Linked DNA regions of Homo sapiens. The protein of the gene in region 1 interacts with the protein of each later gene in a biochemical or structural test. Each region holds a gene or a part of one and is shown in the gene's direction. Other genes may lie near its edges.

The links.
Region 2: of the proteins of TAX1BP1 (region 1) and CHUK, one has a biochemical effect on the other in vitro, tested with the Homo sapiens proteins (one study listed by IntAct).
Region 3: the proteins of TAX1BP1 (region 1) and MYO6 form a complex in vitro, tested with the Homo sapiens proteins (5 studies listed by BioGRID, with this or other methods).

The regions. Positions count from the first base shown.
Region 1 is NC_000007.14:27,735,136-27,743,499, forward strand, and holds the start of TAX1BP1 (tax1-binding protein 1), read left to right. Parts: upstream 1-5,026; 5' UTR 5,027-5,134; exon of another isoform or gene 5,135-5,540; intron 5,541-8,364.
Region 2 is NC_000010.11:100,198,597-100,205,596, reverse strand, and holds part of CHUK (inhibitor of nuclear factor kappa-B kinase subunit alpha), read left to right. Parts: intron 1-397; coding exon 398-521; intron 522-939; coding exon 940-1,091; intron 1,092-3,447; coding exon 3,448-3,509; intron 3,510-4,816; coding exon 4,817-4,926; intron 4,927-5,576; coding exon 5,577-5,626; intron 5,627-6,428; coding exon of another isoform or gene 6,429-6,496; exon of another isoform or gene 6,497-7,000.
Region 3 is NC_000006.12:75,913,239-75,920,037, forward strand, and holds the end of MYO6 (unconventional myosin-VI), read left to right. Parts: intron 1-824; coding exon 825-1,043; intron 1,044-1,574; coding exon 1,575-1,774; 3' UTR 1,775-6,299; downstream 6,300-6,799. UniProt on the Homo sapiens protein: Myosins are actin-based motor molecules with ATPase activity. Unconventional myosins serve in intracellular movements. Myosin 6 is a reverse-direction motor protein that moves towards the minus-end of actin filaments.

The DNA.
Region 1 (8,364 bases):
AAATTAAACATTTGAAGATTATCTTAACATTTCCTTAAAATAATTTTTATTAACTTTAATTATCATTGATACACAGTGACTCACAAAATACAGGTATTTAATAAGAAACACTGGGAAGGAAGAATCTTGTTGACATAAGTACCTTAAAAATTCAAAGTACTTTGCTGGCTATTACTCTTCTCAGTAAGATGAGGAAGAGAGGTTAGAAAATATTTACATTCTAGTGACCTTTCAGTTGCACAAGGAACAAAGAACACTGTTAGGAGCCAATGGGGCAAAGGTCTTATATAAACCTCTGCAGGCTCTGTTTCTTAGTATCATAAATTATAGTTTCTCTTTTTGATAGTGCAAGAAACTTCCCAAAACACTCAATTTTAACTTCAAAGTTTCTGCTTAGTATTTCCAGACGTAAACTTTAGTGTAAAGCATGTGATGACTACAAAGTCTGTAATGCATTTGTTATAGGAAATTTTCCTTAATGTGCAAGATAGGAAGTCAAGGGAGTTTAAGGTGTTGGAAGTCGTGTTAATGAAATTATAGCTATGGACTCTAAGTTGGATACTGAGGGAAGTATTAAAAAAAGAAATGGATTGAGATGCTGATGAGTTTGAAAAATAGTTCTGCTGGGCATATTTGAATGAACAAGTTAGAAGAATAGGAGATTGTGGTCAAAGAGTAGGAGGCTTGCTTTTCAAGATGATGGCAAGGGCCAAGGTGTGACCACAGAAATAGGTATCTGGAGTGGAGTATTTGAGATGAGGGATTCAGGAAATTAAAATGCTGGGATGTTGGCCTTTTCATTTTAATCTCATCCAAGTAGACAATGAATGGCTTAGAATGGAGGAGACTGTGCACTAGGTGACACTCTTCACTGAATGAGGAACAGTGACTTGGAGATCAGAAGACGACAGCCACAGGGAGGGAAGACGGAGCATAACACAACAGTGTATATCTCAAAGGAGCAAAGGTGTGTTACAAGCACCTAGGTAGGTAATGATTGGGAAACAAGGAGCAATGAATACATCAATAAAATCTAACAGACAGGGAAAGAGAAAATCAGCCTATTTTAGAGTGTTTGGAATCCTCTCTTTCTCTGCCTATCCAAAGCCTACCATTATTCAAATCTCATTTTTAAAGGCTCTCTTTTTAGATTGAGACCATCCTGGCCAACATAGTGAAACCTCGTCTCAACTAAAAATACAAAAAAATTATCTGGGTGTGGTGGCATGCACCTGTAGTCCCAGCTACTTGGGAGGCTGAGGCAGGAGAATCACTTGAACCCGGGAGGCAGAGGTTGCAGTGAGCCAAGATTGCGCCACTGCACTCCAGCTTGGGTGAAAGAGTGAGACTCTGCCTAAAAAAAAAAAAAAGCTCTCTTTTTAAAACAAAGGTTTACAAAGGTGTTTTTTTCTTTTTAATTAAGAATCATTTATAACAAAAGGAATCTTTAATACAAATTCTAATGTAAACCATTGTTCTAAGAAAGGAGAACAACTCATTTGCCTGGCTTTTAAAACCTGTAATGTTTCTAATAAAACATGTCTATTTGAACTTTTTCAAAAATTTTCAATCCATGTTTTGCTATCTAGTTGTCCCATCTGTGCCTTTTAAATTATATTATTCTCACTATGTAAGCCTTTTTTTCATCTTTTCAAATCTTATCAGTCTTTTGAAGTTTAGAGACCAATCTCTTTTACAAAGTCTAGCTAATTTCAAAATTAATTATTCTGTATATCTTTCTACTTTATTTCTCATAGTCCATTTCCTTCAAATTTGACAGTTATCTATACCATCCGGTAACATCTTGACCTGATTTTAAGCAGTTTCAGGGAAGAAACCATGCTTGATTCCTTGTTTTTCCCAGAGCACATAGTAAATGAACAAAATGCTCTTATTAAGAAGCGACATGACACAATGGTGAATGAATGAACTTTGGAGGAAATTATTATTTTTGGTTAACAATTTTCTTCTTGCCTGATTCCCTTGCCCAAGCTCTTAAATCCTGACTGGAAAGTCCTCCTCCTCCATCTCCTCATCGAAATCATACCTCACTTTGACAGTCTAGGCCTGCCTCCCCCATGAAAAGTGTACTGCTAACATAAGCCTGTACTTTCTCCCATCTCTGAATATCTGTCTTCCTATTCATTTACACTTTAGTTACCTACATTTTCATGGGCTCATTTCTTTTCTTCCCTTTGCTATCATAAGTTCCTCTAATGAAAGAACAGTGCCTTTTAAATATAGTCAGCATATTTTCCCAATCAAACACAGGACAACTGCCTAGAAACTACTTGACACTGTAGTTGCTCCAGAAAAATCATGGGTTACTCACTGATTTACTTTCCAATAATTCTCTCAATATTCACCACTTCGAAATCTAAAAAGCTCTGAAAATTGGCCAGGTGCGGTGGCTCATGCCTGTAATCCCAGAAGGAGAATCACTCGAACCTGGGAGGCAGAGGTTGCAGTGAGCCGAAATCTTGCCACTGCTCTCCAGCCTGGGTGACAGGGAAGAGGGCAGAGACCCCGTCTCAAAAAAAAAAAAAAAAAGAAAAAGCTCTGAAAATCAAATGTTTTCTCAACATTTGGTGGCAAAACCTGTTTGACCTGACTCATTTGTCATTAAAACTTGACCTGAACCCAAGGGCAAAGTGGCAGAACCTGACCTGAAAAACTTGACTTGAGTGAGACTATACATTTCATTTATCTTAGTGTGATATTCATAATTGTTCCGGAAAAAAAAGTTGACTGTGGGTGCTGCCCCAGATAGTGAGGAATGTCACATAAAGCACACCTCTCTAAAGTCTGAAAAATTCTGAATTCTGAAATCCATCTGGCAGAAAGATTTCACTTAAAGGAAGTGAATCCATATCTCTTCTAGCCATAGTCCACTGCCATACAAATAAGAGGCTAACTTTAAGAAATTCAATTAAAGCCGGGTGCGGTCTCTCATGCTTGTAATCCCAGCACTTTGGGAGGCTGAGGCAGGCAGATCACCTGAGGTCAGGAGTTGGAGACCAGCCTGGCCAACATGGAGAAACCCCGTCTCTACTAAAGATATAAAAATTAGCCCAGTGTGGTGGTGTGCGCCTGTAATCCTAGCCACTGGGGAGGCTGAGGCAGGAGAATTGCTTGAATCTGGGAGGTGGAGGTTGCAGTGACCCGAGATCATGCCACTGCACTACACCCTAGGTGACAGAGCGAGACTCTGTCTCAAAAAACAAACAAACAAAAAACCCAAACCCTACTCCCCCAAAACCCAGAAATTCAATTAAATACTAAGAGGGTATCTATTTATCTTGGTGGGAAAAACTTGGTCTAAAAATTAAAGGATCATTATTAAAATGAATGAAGCAAGCTAAAATTCCAGAACAAATACCTTCCTGGGGAAAATAAGGTCTAAAAATTCAAGAAATAATTAAAAATAACAAAGTAAAAATACCTGTGAAAATGTCCTTTGAGACCAGCCTGACCAACACGGCGAAACCTCCTCTCTACTAAAAATACAAAAATTAGCCAGGCGTGGTGGCTGGCTCCTGTAATCCCAGCTACTTGGGAGGCTGAGGCAGGAGAATTGCTTGAACCCGGGAGGCGGAGGTTGCAGTGAGCCGAGATCGCGCCACTGTACTGCAGCCTGAGCAACAAGAGCGAAACTCCGTCCCTCTCAGGGCAAAAAAAAAAGTCTTTCAATTATGGTTTTTATTAAGCATACTGTTTTTCTGATTTCATTAACTGAAAATTAGTGGTAATTAAAAATGTATTACATATAAATAGGAATGTGATTTAAACAAAGAGTGACATCTCTGACAAATTGTGCTTATAAAATTCACTGCTATGTTTACATTTCTTAAGGGACACAGTTATTTCTACTACCAGAAGGTTGCTACCAGTAACGCAAGTGATAACTTATGTTGATTATTCACACCGTTTTCTTCATCCATAAAATAAGGAGACTGGGACTAAATGGCCTATTAAGGTTCTTCTGAAATTCTATGATCAAGTATAATACCCAGCACAAGACCAAGTTCAAAAATGTCAATACACAGGAAACAAATCAGTCTGTAAATATTGAGAACCTATGTTATCAAAGCTAATGTCTTCTGAAATAACTGGAAGTAAAGATGAAAGTATATGAAAGATAATTTTGAATGTTCTGTATTTAGAATGTGCTTCAACATTTAATGCGATCTAATTTACATATCCTTTCTGGTGCTATTGCAAGGTTTGTCAGGGTTTTACGGCAACAGAAGACTATGATGAATTCGAATGGGACACATTTGCTTCTGTGGAGTTACGATTCAAACTGAATGTCCAATATAGGAAGGCAACATATACAACAAGCAAAAGTGATTTTAGAAATAACAGAACGCGGGAGAAAATTCACACACGGAAAATGATACGGATAACAAAAGCAGGTAACTCACAGAAATGCGGCTAGAAAAGAGGCCTCTGCTGGAGCGAGAGCAAATAGAATCAGAGGGCATTAGAACTGAAAAGCTCCTAGGAGCTTTCAGTGAACAAAACTTCATAGCCAAAAAAGCACACGACTGGGCCAGGAGTTCAGAGACAGTCTTGGTGCTCAGGGGTTTGCAGCCCTAGCCGTGTGGTCACTCCCTTGCTTCTCTGGCTATTTCCTTATCTATAAAATGAGTGGGCTAGTTTAGGCCGACTGAGACGCAGACAGGGATACGGTACTGTCCATGGACCTCTGAGCTGCCCTTTCCACATCGCTGGTGAGTTACTTAAACCTCCTGTGTGTTTCCCCCTTTCGTATGTCAAAATAATAACATAAAATCAGAATGTAAATCCAGACGCATTGTTTTGCTGCGATTAAGTTGAACGAAAATAGCAAGGACGAAGTAAGGAGAGAGCCAGCCTACCCGCGGGATGAGGCGTCCCGCGGCGGAGTGGGCTGGGGGCGTGTCGTCGCGGAGGGGAGCGGCGAACCAGGCAGGAGGCGGAAGAGACCGCCCCGTGGGCGGAAGTGACGCAAGGCCTACTGTCGGCTGGGAGGGGAGGTGTAGCCGGTCTTTGGGGGTAGGCGGTAGTGGCGGAAGAGGTTCGGCGGCTGATGGCGGATCAGGATCGGAAGCCTGCGTAACTTTCTCCCTTGATCCGGGAGTCTTTCCACTGGGTAAGGCGCCTCCCCGGTCCACCCCAGCGCCTTGTGCGGGGCGGCCTCCAGCTGCATCTCTTTTAGGGCTCGTGCTACACCCTTCAGCCCCTGTACTGTAGGGGCCTGGCCGGTCTCGGGAGAGGTCTCTGTGGTGACGAGGCTTTCCTTCCCGAAGACAAACCTTCCTTTCCAGACTGCGATTGTGACGGGGGTGTGGGCGACTCGGATCAGCTGTGGAGTTTTGGAATGGCAACGGGTGGCCGCCCCACGCGGTGGGAGGCCCGTGGGACAGGCCTTCGCGATTTGGGGGAGGCGTGTGGGACGGGGGCCCTTTGGCTGGGGACGAGTGACGCTGGCGACCCCCGAAGGAAAAGCTTCTGGTGTCCAAGGCTAAACTCTGGGGTGACTGTTTTGAGGGCAGTGTGGGTTTTACCGGCGCAGTAAGCTGAGAAAACACGTAGGTCGCGTCCGAGAAGGACGCTGGGGTTTGCCTTTGCGGAGAGAAACCCAGCTGTTTTGGTTTGAGTCGCCGGTGGCGAAGGGGGCGGAGACTCCCTGCGCCGCCTACTTTTGAGGGCCGCGGGCGGAGTTGGCGGTTCTGGCTGATGGCCTGCTTCACCTGGAATCCATTCCCCACCCCGCCCCGTTCGCAAGGTGTGGACTAGTCCCGACCGACTTGCACTCCTGGCTTAGGGAATCTGTGGCTAGAGTTTAGCGTGCGCGCGCGCGCGTACACCTTATTAGTAAAAAATTGAGCTTAGCGTGCGTCTGTGTGGGTGTGTGTACACACCTTATTGGTAAAAGTTTTGTTAGAAAACACTGGCATTTGACTTTAGACATACACAGTGTTAGATTTCCGGTTTCACACAGTGGTTATGAATTGCTATTATGTTAGGCTTTAGATGGGAAAATAAATCTTGATTTTTCAGCTGTCTGCATTCTGCTAATGTTAAAATTTCTACGAGCTGTGCACGAACAATTAATAGTTACAAGTTTGGTGCTCAATTCCTAAAGGATTTAAAGAGATCATTTGAATAGAAACTAAAAGTGGGTCGATCGTCCTCAAAGTGCTTTTCGGGTTTAGGGAAGGAGCTTAGGACAGCCTTTCTCTTTCGTTCTGTTCCTTTCAAGGGTAAACTTGAAGGATTGTTTGATGATGCCGACTTCTAATAAGGTTTTATTTATTTTTCAAACTGATTGTTCAACTTCAAAGAACATTGTAGTTTTTGTTTTCTAGTCATCACGTTCTTTTTTTTTTTTTTTCCTTGAGATGGAGTCTTGCTCTGTCTCCCAGGCTGGAGTGCAGTGGCGCGATCGCGGCTCATTGCAACCTCCGCCTCCCAGGTTCAAGCGATTCTCCTGCCTCAGCCTCCTGAGTACCTGGGATTACAGGCGCGCACCACCACACTGAAGGGGTGGGTTGCCCCTCCACACCTGTGGGTGTTTCTCGTTAGGTGGAATGAGAGACTTGGAAAAGAAAAAGACACAAAGTACAGAGAAAGAAATAAGGGGATCCGGGGAACCAGCGTTCAGCATATGGAGGATCCCGCCAGCCTCTGAGTTCCCTTAGTATTTATTGATCATTTGTGGGTGTTTCTCCGAGAGGGGGCTATGTCAGGGTCACAAGACAATAGTGGGGAGAGGGTCAGCAGACAAACACGTGAACAAAGGTCTTTGCATCATAGACAAGGTAAAGAATCAAGTGCTGTGCTTTTAGATATGCATACACATAAACATCTCAATGCTTTACAAAGCAGTATTGCTGCCCACATGTCCCACCTCCAGCCCTAAGGCGGTTTTTCCCTATCTCAGTAGATGGAACGTACAATCGGGTTTTATACTGAGACATTCCATGCCCAGGGACGGGCAGGAGACAGATGCCTTCCTCTTGTCTCAACTGCAAGAGGCATGCCTTCCTCTTATACTAATCCTCCTCAGCACAGACCCTTTACGGATGTCGGGCTGGGGGATGGTCAGGTCTTTCCCTTCCCACGAGGCCATATTTCAGACTATCACATGGGGAGAAACCTTGGACAATACCTGGCTTTCCTAGGCAGAGGTCCCTGCAGGCTTCCACAGTTTTTGTGTCCCTGGGTACTTGAGATTAGGGAGTGGTGATGACTCTTAAGGAGCATGCTGCCTTCAAGCATCTGTTTAACAGAGCACATCTTGCACAACCCTTAATCCGTTTAACCGTGAGTTTGACACAGCACATGTTTCAGAGAGCACGGGGTTGGTGGTAAGGTCATAGATTAACAGAATCTCAAGGCAGAATAATTTTTCTTAGTACAGAACAAAATGGAGTCTCCTATGTCTACTTCTTTCTACACAGACACAGTAACAGTCTGATCTCTCTTGCTTTTCCCCACACATACCCGGCAAATTTTTGTATTTTTAGTAGAGACGAGGTTTCTCCATGTTGGTCAGGCTAGTGTCGAACTCCTGACCTCTTGATCCGCCTGCCTCGGCCTTCCAAAGTGCTGGGATTACAGGTGTGAGCCACCGCACCCAGCCCATCACGTTCTTAAATTGTAGACCGCTGTTTATAGTTCTCACTGCAGCCATGTTTGTAGAATTAACCAGCAAATACCTTTTCCATAACAAAAGTAAAATTTTGGAATTCAAAGTTTCAACCTTTTTAATAATGTTAAAATAATCATGAAAGATCCTAATGATGCTCCTTGTATACTTCTTTTGGGGACTTTGTTGTATTCTTTTGGAATGGATATGTTAAATCTGGGCTTTATGCATTTCTGTCTTTTTAAAGCTTATTTTGTCCCAAATAAACCTTTAGAAGAAGATAAAAATGTCCTCTACCCTAATATGTGTGGGCCAATATCATAGCATTTTAGAAACCAACTTATAAAAATCTAAAAAGTAAATAAAAGTGGTGCGGGTGATACCTGGGCGGAATGTCTTGGCACTCAGGTGTAAAGGATTCTGGAAATAGGGATGTCTGCAAGGGTGCAAATTAATAGACTGGGGCTTTTGCTGTTGCCTCCTAGAAAAATTGCTGATTACATTTTTTGGGAGCAGAGGTCTGTTGAGAGTTGTTAGTCTTTCTTTTTTTGAGCCACAGTGTGAATAATTGGAAACTATTTGAATGCTGGACATTTTTTCCTTTCATATGTTTGTGTGTCCTATCGGATTAAAGTTTGGAGATAATTCTAAAGGTTTTTTAGCTGAAGATGTGAAAAACTTTCAGTAACTCTATCAACCATTACCTGAATTACAACACTTCTAAGGGT
Region 2 (7,000 bases), on another chromosome or scaffold:
TTATTCAGAGGTAGGAAAGACTCAGAGGAGATGGGACTTGATTTAGAACTTGAAAGAAATAATTTGGATTAGCAGAGAGAAAAAGAGTATTCCAGGTTGCAGAAAAGCAAGCAAAAAAGACAGATACAGGAATAATCTCAAGCTCTGTGAGTGTAGCGATTGTGTCATTTTTATTTCCCCCCTTGTATGTGGAGCGGGGCTTAAGTATTGCAGGTGCTCTGTAAATGTATATTGAACTGAATTAAATGGAAACAAGTGGTTCTTTTAGCATCAGTTTCTAGCATCTATGGGAATCCTGTTTGTGTGGACAGGAAATCACAAAGAATGATAAATCAACTCTAAAATCCTCAAAAGTAACTAACCTCCCTTGCCCTTTTTCTCATCTTCTTGTATATAGTACAGGACAGCAAAATACAGCTTCCAATTATACAGCTGCGTAAAGTGTGGGCTGAAGCAGTGCACTATGTGTCTGGACTAAAAGAAGACTATAGCAGGCTCTTTCAGGGACAAAGGGCAGCAATGTAAGTGGATTCTGTTGTTTATAAGCACAATGCAATGTGCATCATATACTCAAGAATTAATCTTGCCGGTTTTCACTAATCAATATTGCATGTAATAGTAACATACTGGGCCAATTTGAAGTGTAATGTTCTGATAAACTTGTAGAATTCTTACTAATGGACTGAGACCATTCTATTGTAATGGCTTGAGGGTAATAATTCCCATACGGTCCTAGTATAAAAAGATTGTTTATCACAAAATATTATAGGCAGGAAGTCTTTAGAGATCAGATTCTAGAGCTCAGTTATTTCTCATAGATTGATAATAGAAACTTAGGCTTTGGCCTTGTGGCAGTTTATGTTTTTACATTATTGTTCAATGTTTCTGAATGCTGATAATATCTTTTTTCTTTTTCTTTTTTTTCTTGCTGTGGTTTAGGTTAAGTCTTCTTAGATATAATGCTAACTTAACAAAAATGAAGAACACTTTGATCTCAGCATCACAACAACTGAAAGCTAAATTGGAGTTTTTTCACAAAAGCATTCAGCTTGACTTGGAGAGATACAGCGAGCAGATGACGTATGGGATATGTAAGTGTCTGTGTAATGTATTTGAAAGGAGCATCTGGTTTCTTGAAGCCATCTGTTATTTTGCCTTCTTAACTCAGCCAGTTGTTTTACTTACCTTCACATTAGAACAAGAGACAGGACAACTTAAATTAACATAAACCATGTTTGTTTTGAATGTTACCTCTTTTTTTAAATTTGCTTAGTTGAGCAATTTAGCTTCACAATTGGGCTAAAATTATTTAGCTCTAAAAAAATACAGGTGCGATTTAATAATCTTGAATTTCAAACCTGATTTTAAAATAAATACAAAATCTGGACTTCTTAGCCAGTGCTGTGGACTGAATGTATCCCCCCCAAAATACATATGTTGAAATTCTGACCCTGAAGGTGAAGGTGTTGGTAGGTGGAGCCTTTGGGAAGTGATTAGGTCATGAGAGTAGAGCCTTCCTGTTTGGGATTAATGCTCTTACAAAAGAGACCTGAATGAGATCCCTCATCCCTTCTGCATGTGAGGACAGAGCAAGAAGATGGTCATCTAGGAACCAGAAAGCAGGCCCTCAAATCTGCCTTGTTCTTGGACTTCCCAGCCTCCAGAACTATAAGAAATAAATTTCTGTTGTTTTTATGGCACTTAGTCTATGGTATTTTGTTATAGTAGTCCAAATGGACTAAGACAACCAGGGGAGTCTTAAACTGCTTACTTTTCTGTAAATAATGACACAAATATTCTAAGGCTATGTTTTTTTCAAACCATCTACTGTGGAGTCCTACTATTTTTTAGTGTACACAGTCTCCAAATTTTCCATATTTGACTCCAAGCTTATCTCCTTCAGATGTACTAAGGAAGTGTAAAAAAACAGAGTTAAAATATGAGTAAATTGAAGGAGTCATACTACCAGCATTTCTGTTTTCTTTTATAAAACAAATCCTTTTTAGGAAACAAATACTTGTTTCCTAAAAACATATACTTGTCCTGAGCAAACTCTGTGTATCTCAGAGTAAACAATCAATAGTGTCCAGTTGGGTGAATGAATTTACTCTCCAGAACTGGTTTTATTAATATTATTGATATTTTATTTCTATTTATATATTATTGATATTTTATTTCTATTTGTATATTATTGACATTCTGGTGAGTGATAAAACATTATAATTATTTCATTAAAATATCTTAGACTTGTCAAAGGCTTATTATACAATTGTTAAAGAAAAATGAGGTAGATCTATATGTGCTTTTATTAAAAGATCACCTAAGTCTTTAGTTGACAGTTTTAAATTGTGGGAAAAAATAAAGAGTATACAGATGTTTTCACTTGTGAGGGAGCAGGCTATGTGTCTATGTAACAGATAATCATAGTAAGGTCCCTTGAGGTGGATGGTAGAGGGGTAGAAGAGAGAGTCTTTTCTGTTTATATCCTTTTATAGTATTTAATTTTTAAAAATCATATTCAAGTATTAAATTTCTTTTCTGGCCAGGTGGTGACTCACGCCTGTAATCCCAACACTTTGGGAGGCCAAAGCAGGTGGATCCCTTGAGCTCAGGAATTCAAGACTAACCTGGGCAACATGGGGTAGAACGCCATCTCTACAAAAAATGTAAAAATTAGCCGGGCATGGTGGTGCACACCTCAGCTATTCAGGAGGCTAAGGTGGGAGGATCGCTTGAGCCCTGGAGATAGAGGTTGCGGTGAGCTGAGATCATGCCACTGCACTCCAGCCTGGGTGACAGAGTGAGACTCTACCTCAAAAAAAAATTTTTTTTGTTGTTTTTTCCTTTATCCACCCATCTGCACACTGGTATAAATATATATATTTTTAAGAAAAAAGTCATCTGTATTCATTTCCTAAGGGTTCCATAACAAAATCCCATAAACTGAGTGGCTTAAGCAATGGAAACTTACTGTCTCACAGCCCTGGAGGCTAAAAGTCCAAAATTGAGGTGTTGGCAGGGCCATGTTTTCTCTGAAATCTGTAGAGAAGAATCTTTCCTTGTTTCTCTCTAGCTTCTTATGGTCTGCTAGCCATCATTGGCATTCCTTGGCTTACAGCTGCAGCACCTCAATCTGTCTCCATTGTCACAGAGCATTCTCCCCTGTGTATCTGTATCCTGTGTCTCTTCTAAGTACACTGGTCGTACTGGACTAAGGGCCCAGACCATTCCAGTATGAGTATTAATTTATCTGATTACTTCTGTAATGACCTTATTTCCAAATAGGTCACATTCTGAGGTATTAGGGGTTAGGAATTCCACATATCTTTTGGGGGACCACAATTCAACTCATAACACATCTTTGATGTTGATATGGCAAGGAGGCAGGCAGCCAGTAATTAAAGATATGGCTATTTCTGAGATAACCAATTTAGACTTTTCTTTTAGCTTCAGAAAAAATGCTAAAAGCATGGAAAGAAATGGAAGAAAAGGCCATCCACTATGCTGAGGTAAAATCATTGACGTCATTCTGTATACTTATTAATTCTTGATGTCTCCATTAGAAACTATCTTTGGTTTTGATATATAAAGAGCATTTTTCATGTCATTCCTGAAATTCAGACAAAATTCTAGTAGATGCTTTGTATATAAAGAGGGATGTATCATAGTGATTAAAAACAAGGGCTTTGGGAAAATTACCTAGTGCCTCACTGAGCTTCAGTTTCCTTTATTTATTTATTTTTTGAAACAGGGTCTCACTCTGTTGCCCAGGTTGGAGTGTAGTGGCATGATCAAAGCTCACTGCAGCCTCGACTTCCCAGGCTCAAGCAGTCCTCCCATCTTAGCCTCCTGTGTAGCTGGGACAAGAGGTGCACCACCATGCCTGGCTAACTTTTACATTTTTTGTAGAGACGGGGTCTCACTATGTTGTCCAGGCTTGTATCAAACTCCTGGGCTTAAGCAATCCTCCCACCTCAGCCTCCCATAGAGCTGGGATTATAGGCATGAGCCACCACATCCAGCTAGTTTCCATATTATAGGGACAATTTCTTTTCTAGTAGGGTTATGAAGATTAAATGGGAGTCAGTAATGGTAGTTGTCACTATTATTTTTGTGACTGGTTTAGATAGGATGGCTGCACATCCTGGTTTACCTGGGACTGTCCCAGTTTATACTTAATGTCTTGCCATAATTATCAGTAGTAGTCCCTTTCACTCTCAAAATTATGCCGGTTTGGACAATAAATTATATGGTGTCCCTAGGTATAGCTCATTCTCTAGGTGGCAGATTTTTTCCCCTTATCCTGTACATTTGTCCACGGTCCTAAGTTATTACACTCCTTAATGTCAGTACTTACCCTGAGGATGTGGGTGGGGATACCCATGGTGTCCTGGGGTGGGAAATCCAAGTTCTTTATCTTTTTGTGTCCCTATTCAAGGTAGTGGGGACCAGGGGGCAGTCAAAATCATAGAGCCAAGATACAAGTAATACCAATGGTTTTGGTGGTCCTTTTTCTTTCTTGTTAGTTGATACCTGTTGTAGCTTTTTGCTTCTCCGGAGGTAAAAGCAAATACTAGTAGTTTACTGTTGTCAGGAGAGAAAAGAGAGAAGACTAAGACTAAGTATGTTCTTATGTGAAAGATTAAGTGTCAGAATCTGAAGAATAGAAAGGCTTTAACAAAATCAGTGTTTCGTATTATATTATTTAGTTCTCTAATGAAGCAGCAAGTCATTCTGTATCCTTAAGATCTGAATTTTGTTTCCTATGATGTAGTGGTAAGCCTTTCATTTCCTTTGTATTTTCATCATATTTTAGGTTGGTGTCATTGGATACCTGGAGGATCAGATTATGTCTTTGCATGCTGAAATCATGGAGCTACAGAAGAGCCCCTATGGAAGACGTCAGGGAGACTTGATGGAATCTCTGTAAGGATGCACTTGTGTTGTTGGTCTTGACATCTGTAATATTTTGTATTCTTTCTGCTTACATCTGGCAAATTAAACCTCTAGTGGTTCTTTTCTATAGTTTTCCTTTCCCCAAATATATTGGCATTATATTTAAAATGGAAGCTTTTTCTCAGTCACAGGAAACTTCGGAAATAATTCTTTGGGTTGGCCTTTTTTGGTTTTTAATAAAAGCATTTATTTCATAGGAGTGTTAAGAATTTTCCAAGTATAACTAAGTTACAAACTATTTCCCTACTCATTATACCTCTGGTCCAAGGTATTGACTCTTAAATGCCCTAAAACTTGAAATTTTTTCTGAATTAAAGTTCTGGATTAAAAACTTCAGATATTTTCTCGAATTATAGGTCATAATTTTTGTCTTTTTAAGTGTCTGTGGTGCAGAGATGTCCCCATGATAGATCAGAATAGATATGAACTATATTAAACTTTGCATTTTAAGAACTTGTATAGTTCTTATTACTCAATACAATGCTCTGTGAAATACTTGTTGGCAATATGAACTTGCTTTAAAATGGGTTCATTATTCAAATAAAATATTGTTTCAAGTTGTAGATTATTGAAGTCATTAAATTACCTTCACTTATCAGAGCGTGTTTTCTCTTTTATAGGGAACAGCGTGCCATTGATCTATATAAGCAGTTAAAACACAGACCTTCAGGTAAGACACTTCTACCACAGTGCTTGAAGGCATTTTAGGTAACTATCACTAGCCTAACAAATGTGGGGGATCTAATATTTTTAAGTTAAAAATTTTCTTAAAGCTGCAGAATAAATTCCAGTTTTGGTATTGCCATTGAGACATGGTATAATAAGCTTTAAGATTGTGAGAATTTAGGAGATGATAAAGAGAAAGTAACAGAGAACGTGAGGTAGAAAAATTTTAGAAGGGGACGTGAAAAGAAAGAATGGAAGACAGAAAAAAGGAACTCAGAGAGGAAAAAGCAGCAAGAAAATGTTTAGAAAGATGGAAAAAATAAGTGTTGCTTAAGATTAGAGAGGTTGGGCCAGTTGTGGTGGCTCATGCCTGTAATCCCAGCACTTTGGGAGGCCAAGGTGGGTGGATCACCTGAGGTCAGGAGTTCAAAACCAGCTTGGCCAACATGGTGAAACCCCATCTCTACTAAAAATAGAAAAGTTAGCTGGGCATGTTGGCATGTGCCTGTAATCCCAGCTACTTGGGAGGATGAGGCAGGAGAATCGCTTGAACCTGGGAAGAGGAGGTTGCAGTGAGCCAAGATCACACCACTGCACTCCAGCCTGGGTGACAGAGCGAGATTCTGTCTCAAAACAAAACAAAAAAATATTATAGAGGTTGGAAAGAATTTGAGGCAGTGGGTTCAGGTATGGAATGGTTAGAGGGAAGGCCTGTGCTGTTCTAGGCCAAAGCAGATTGCTTTGAAAATAATGCCTTCATCTGCACTGGTCACTGATGACTTGTTTTGTTGGCAAAATAATTCCAGTTGAACATCTGCTAAATACTGAGCAAGGTCTGCTGGAAAGAGTACTGGATGGGGAATCAGAGGCTTGAATTCTAGATTGAGTAATTTACTGACCGTTACCTCAGGCAAATCTGCGTTTCCCATTTCCTTCTTCTGCAAAATGGGGTTGAAACCTAGCTTTCCTACTCAGTGAGTATATTGTGACAGTGTATTTAAGAGGATGTTTGTGAAAATGCTTTGAAAACTATAAACTATTATGTACTTGCAAGATATTATCATTTAGTTAAAAATTTGTTTTGAAGGGTAACAGAAGAAATAAAGTCTGTGCCCTAATGTGCATTATACTTAAATGCATGTTAAAAAAAGATATACTTTTACACTTTAAAATTTGTAGACACATAGCAACACATGCAAATTAATATACATGTGAAATTGTATTTCATATACTATTTTCACATTTAAAAAATAACATTATCTCCTCTTATACTGCTTTTATTTTACTGAAATGTATTCAGTTTAGTCTGACCAGCAGTTCTCAAAATGTGGCATATGGACCTGTGAGAATCCTTGAAACTTTGTCAGAGAGTCTGTGA
Region 3 (6,799 bases), on another chromosome or scaffold:
AGATAAAAGAAAAACCTAATTGTTAAGTAATGAAAATTGAGCTAGGAATGAAAGATTGATATGAATGAAATGCCCAGTACTAGTAGAAAAGCAAGGATTTTTCTTTTCTTTTGGCAAGGAGAATCAAATGTTACATACTTTGCACTTCATTGGATTTTATTCTAAGAGAAATCTGATTTCAGAGTAAGTAAATATCTTTAAGGGAAAGTTTATGCTTACTGTTATAAGGTTTTTTTTGTCATATGGTTGTCTAAATGTTGTTAATATCTATGTCATTGTGGTCATTTTAAATCCTAAAATTTGTTGGCAAAAGAAAAAATTTTTATATGGCTTCTACTTTTTGTGGAAATAGTGATTAAACTGACAAATGTCTACATCCTTCAGATTTTTGAAATTACTGTTTATTTTGTTCTATCATAAATAGTTGAATAAAAGTTACTGTACAAATTTGAACTCTTTACAGGAAGAATATAAATCTAGTAAATAATAGTAGTTTGTTTTCCTGCCGTGTGAGTTTATTTTAGGTTACTGTTACAGTGATTTGTGGGAATCTGACAGGGGTTTGTTGCTGGTAGTGGTGGTGGTAGTGGTATGTGTGTGTTTGTGTTGGCAATGCTAAGAAACATCTTAAGGGAAAGACAATTCTAAGAAGTAACACTCTGAATTTTATTAATTTGTAGGCAATAAATATTTTCATTTTGTTTTAAATTTACTATTAGGGACCTTTCTTCTTTTTAAAAAATTATTGGGGTATATTTTAGGATTAAAGGCTCTTTTCTTTTCCCTTGAGCTGCTGGTATAACTTTCCTTGTTCTGTGTAATAGCTCAGCAAAACCCAGCAGCTCAGATTCCTGCCAGGCAGCGGGAGATTGAAATGAACCGACAGCAACGCTTCTTCCGCATCCCATTCATCCGCCCTGCCGACCAGTACAAAGACCCTCAGAGTAAGAAAAAAGGCTGGTGGTATGCCCATTTTGATGGACCATGGATTGCCCGGCAAATGGAACTCCATCCTGACAAGCCACCCATCCTACTTGTGGCTGGTGTGTATGATTCACATGGAAAACAAATTATAGAACAAAAAAGATCATAAACTCTCTGAATGAAACATTCTAATGTATAATATAATAATTTATTACATTTCAGGGTTGAGGGATGGAGTCTTGCGGTTAAATCACATTTCCAGTTCAGTGAGGATTAACTCATTTATAATGTGAAATTGCTTGGATTAAATTATGTTCTTAGCACATAGAAACTTGTCTGTATCCTAAAAACCTTTCCATTTGTGTTTCATCATATCCATTGATTTGTAGTGGCTTGAGGAAATGTAGCATTTTTATTAACTCTGGTAACTTGTTTGATCAATAGCAGTGTTTATTAATATTGAAAGGGTCCTTGATGGGGGACAAATTTTAATTGTTTCTGGTGATTTTATTAAGCAGATTTCCATCTTAGAGAAAAAGTCTTAGGAAGTTTTCAAATCTATGAGAATTAATAGGTATTTCAGGCATACAACTGGTAAGAAATGGTCCTGAAGAGAGAGATGGTAATTTTCTGATATCTCATGAATACAGGTAAGGACGACATGGAGATGTGTGAGCTGAATCTTGAGGAGACTGGCCTGACTCGGAAGCGTGGTGCTGAGATCTTGCCAAGACAGTTTGAAGAAATCTGGGAACGCTGTGGAGGCATCCAGTACCTTCAGAATGCGATTGAGAGCAGACAGGCTCGGCCCACCTATGCAACAGCCATGCTGCAGAGTCTGTTAAAGTAGATGTTGCACACCAGCCTTACAGCTGGGAGCCTTTGCCATGGTACTTAGGTAGGGTGTGTGCCCCCAGATTTAACCATTCCATAATCATGTTAGAGTTACTTCTATAAAGTGAACAGATTTTATTAATCACGGCTTTTGGTGAATTTGTTTAAGGTTAATTATGGTAGCAAATTTTGGACCTAAACATTATTTTTCTGTATCCCGCTGTAATTCCCAAAACTCTCATTATTCTCTAACTATTACACATGGGCATATTCTGATGTTTCTCATCCTTTGCCAGAAGACTACCTTACATCCATCGTAATTGTTCTCTAGGAAAAGAGAACTTTTTTCAAAATTCAAAATACTTTTTAAGGATGGCACAGTACCATATAACTGGAGTAATAAAACATGAGCTTACATTCTTACAATAACTAAACCACTTAAAATGATCAAGGCACTAATGTTTTGGTCTGAAAAGCTGTGTACTTTATAGACATTTTCAGACATTTTTGGAAATTTCCATTAAAGGTGGAAAATCTATTTTTTTCCTCCTTTGCAGTGTCTTAGTTTGAATGAAACACTTCGAAGTTCTAGAATTCTAGAAAGAGCCTTAATGTATTTGATGTATTCTGTGATAAGAGGTACTAATAGTATCCAGCACAGATTTGCTTTTCTTTGCTAGCACAATGTGTGTTGCTGTCAGAATATTCTTTTTATATTCTGTGGAAAAATAAAGGAAATTCAGATTGTTTAAATGCCTAAAAGTTTTGAGATAAGTTTTGTTTCAATTAGAAAAGGAAATAGGTTTTAGGTGGCATAGTGGCTTAACTGGACTGAATTCAAATATTCTTTCAACTTCATCTCAATAGTGATTTTTGTATCAGAATCTTGTCCAAGTTGTTTCATTGATTTAGTAAGTGTTCTGCTTCCAACATCTTTCTTTTTAAGAAATTCCTAGTGTCTTTTTTGGCCTTTGAGGTTTTGGTAATTGTAGACCTGTTTCATAAGCTTTGTAATTCAGAAATCCTTGTATTTAGTAAGTGCTTGTTTTACATAACTGATAATTTTAAAATGTTTTCTTTGTGTGCTGTTAGTATTGATTCAAATGTCAGCAGCTTTAAGCCTAATATTTATGACTTTCACATTTGGAATTTAAAGACAAAAATACATCAAGGAGTTATGCTGACATAATTCTAAGGAGTTTTGTTGTATTTTAGAATAAAATTATAAAGTAAAATGATTCTCTGTACTGCTTTTTCCCCCAGTTTTTAGAGACCCTAACCTTTGAAATGAAATTCCAGTGATTTCTTTTTTCCCTAGAAAGATTACCTCAGTTAGGGAAGTATTTCCCAGCTGACTAGTGTTTGTGAGCCACAGACACTGTCTTCAGAATTGCTTCTCTCATGTCTTAGTAGAGAAATATTTATTTATTATGATACATTCAAATGATTGTCAAGTTAAATTAAATGGTTGTGTCTGTGCTATTGAGAATGCAAATGTGATTATCTTTTGAAGGCTGTATTACTGCATAGCTTCACCCACCCTCGGGTCATTTCGTCCCTGTGATTGGGGACAGAAGGTGTAGCTACTGAAGTAAATGACCTATTCTCTCTCTTCCATCTCTCGCCTTTAACTGGTGTTTTTATTTGTGTAGGATAGTGAATGATAAGCTTTTTTCCTAACCAGTAGTGAGTAAAGTTCTTGAACAAAATTTAGTAGCCAAATTGTTTTTTAATGACATGTCTCTTTAGTACAATAGTTTTGTGTATCTTTTAGATACATTAATAGGCACTAGATGGAAAATTAAAGAGTTAAACATATTTAAATGAGAGAATCTAATGTTTCAGAAATTTGTAAGAAATGTATCACAGCAAAGGGTTGTTATAAGTCCTTAGTTTTTGACTCTAATAGTTAATACAATTATAGTTAATCTTAAGCCATAATGTTTCTAATCATGTCACACAGCTGTCCTAGAACTTATCTATTTAAAATAGTTTCCTGAGTTAATTTTGGCCAGCAGGGCAACTGCCCTAATTCAGATAGATTTACAGTAACCTACGTACAGTAGATGCACATACACACAGACACCCCTTTGCTGGAGAAACTTAGGACCCTGTCAGCCTTTTAAAGGAAACAGCAGGAGTGGTGTCCTAAATGATGTTCATGCAGCTGCTTTACCATGTTCACAGTCAAGCCCATGCATGCCAGGTTAAAACTGTGGAAATCAAAAGTAAATTCACTCATATTTTAATCATTTTAACTGAGATTTAAAATTAGAAGTTTAAACCACTATATATAAAGAACTAATCTTTTCTTAATACCAGTTCTTTCCATAGCATATGCTTTGCAAAGGCAGCATGCATAAAATATTTAAAATGAGAGGACAGAATGTTTTCACATTTGATTCAATTTTAATATAATTCCTAATTGTGGTAACACAGTTGAGATATGTATTATGAGTTATGGGAACTAATTGAGAAAAGGAAGTTACTCTAATCCACGTATGTTAAGAGAATATTGAGTTTTCTTAGTTGTAAAGTTGGGGAGATGGCACCTTCTCAGAGGATTGTGAAAATATGAGGAAGAAACAAAACAGTGCATGTAGGAGCACAGGGCCACACAAAGGCATTCTATTGTTATGCTCATTCTGCTTCTGTAATGACTTTTCATAGGTCATTCTTGTGAACCATTTTGTTTTGCAAGCAACCAAGGAAAGAACATCTTAAGTGGAAAATCAGTGGTGGTTGTGAACACTTAGAGAATAGCAATCCACAGGCAAGAATAATGGTATTGTTTGTAGAGCTTTATTAATTGGATATTTTTTAAAAGACATTTTCATTCACAGGTCATTACTATGGTTCTCAGCGATCCAAATATGTAGATCATTGGTTTTTTTTTTTACCTGAAGTAGCTTAAGAGTACTTGGATCAGTAGAATAAATATTTATTGAATCAATCAGTCAGCCAATTAATATGATGTTAGTGATAGACCTGCCTCCTTTTATGGAAGAGGTAACAGATCCAGAGAGGTCAAGTAATTTAGTTGTAGACTGAAAAATATATCAAAGCCTTTGCTGCAATCATATGTAACAAAAAGAACCAAAACAAACACTTTTTAGTGGCACCTGTGGATTTACAAAGGGTTGCCTCTCTGTCATTCCACAACTTCAGAAGGTGTGACAGGTTTTCCCTATTTATCATTACCAATAATAACAAGTATTGAGAGTTTTAAAATTTCTCCCAGAAGATAAACTAACAAGGATGGAAGGGGAGGGCAAAGGATATCTAAACATGAGAATAAGGACATGTTAGAGGGGGGGAAACAGTTGTAACAATAAGGAAAGAGAAGAGCAACAGTGGAAGAGACAGGTTGTGTGCCCCTAAAGATTCTGCACCCCCAGTTTGGAAACACTGATACATTTTAGGACACAGAGCACTCCTAGATCTCTACGAAATTTTAGAATGAATAATGTGTAATTTATAGGATCAGAACGTATGGTTATTAAAACTTGGATCAAGATATGCCCGGTGTATACATTCTTAGCACATAGGAATGGCACTGCCATACTGGAGAAGGTCAGCAGTAAATAGGCATTCTGTACATAAGCCTCATGGAAGGGTAAGATGGAGAGACTGGCAGAAGTAGCACCTACTCTGCTGGGAGCACTTCTCTGAGTACGCTTTAGTTCAATTCAAATCACTGTATTCTTTCCCCATTGCTAACCTAATATATGAAACAAGCTTAGCTGTCTCAGAAGTTTTTCAAGAGATGATCAGGAAAAATTAATGCACATTCAAAAGGAGAATCTTCAGTACAAATTTGTTTTTTTAAAAATAGATTTAGGGCTGGGCGCGGTGGCTCACGCCTGTAATCCCAGCACTTTGGGAGGCCGAGGCGGGTGGATCACGAGGTCAAGACTTCGAGACCAGCCTGGCCAACATGGTGAAACCCTGTCTCTACTAAAAATACAAAACATTAGCCAGGCGTGGTAGTGGGTGCCTGTAATCCCTGCTACTTGGGAGGCTGAGGCAGGAGAATCACTTGAACGCGGGAGGCAGAGGTTGCAGGGAGCCGAGATGGCGCCATTGCACTCCATCCTGGGCAACAAGAGCGAAATTCCATCTCAAAAAATAAAATAGATTTAGGGGGTACAAGTGCAGTTTTGTTACATGGGTATATTGCATAGTGGTAAAATGTGGGCTTTTAGTGTACCTAACACCCAGAGAAGCATACATTGTGCCCAGTAGGTAATTTTTCATCCCTAAACCTTTTCTCAGCCTCCCACTTTCTGGAGTCTCCAATGTCGGTTATTCCACTCTTTATGTCCATATCTACACATTCAATCCTAATTTGTACCAAGTAGCATCTCACCTTTAAATCACAGGCTTATTAGTTGGGTGTTTTCTTTTTACTTATGAAAATTCATCTAGTCAAACTGTCAATTAATTTTTCCTCATTTCATTAAAAGTGTATATCTAATGCTTTCTCTAAAAATTGATGTACTGGAAATACAAATAAATAAATGCTCCCTGTGTAGAATTTCCACTTGCATCTTGTGCTTTTAATACCATTACAGGGTGTCATGAACAGGTTGTAAATGTTGCACTTATTGCCGTGTTTCAGATGGAATAAGTTGGCGAATTCTGGGCTCCTGAAGCTTGATCCAGTCGCTAGGGCTGGAAGCACTGTGTTAGGTGGCTGCAGGAAGAAGCAAGGAACTCAAGGTGATTGAAACTTCTTTGGACATAGGCCCCAAATTTCCTATGTGATCTCCATCCAGGAAACAGGCAGGATTCTGTGTGAGTGACAGCTACTCATTTTGTAGAGATTAGAGACACACCAAATTTTGGCTGCCTTTCTCCAGACCGTTACTAATCTGTGAGAAGACACAGGATGTAAAAACTGGGGACCAAAAGAAGGCTCCTTCTCCCTAAGGCCTTGAATATAGCTGGTCCATTCCCTGTGTCAAGAACCTACCATGATCCTGCTGGGTCCTCTGAGAGTGGAAGGAGACTCTGTCCATCTCACCTCATCAGCTCTTCC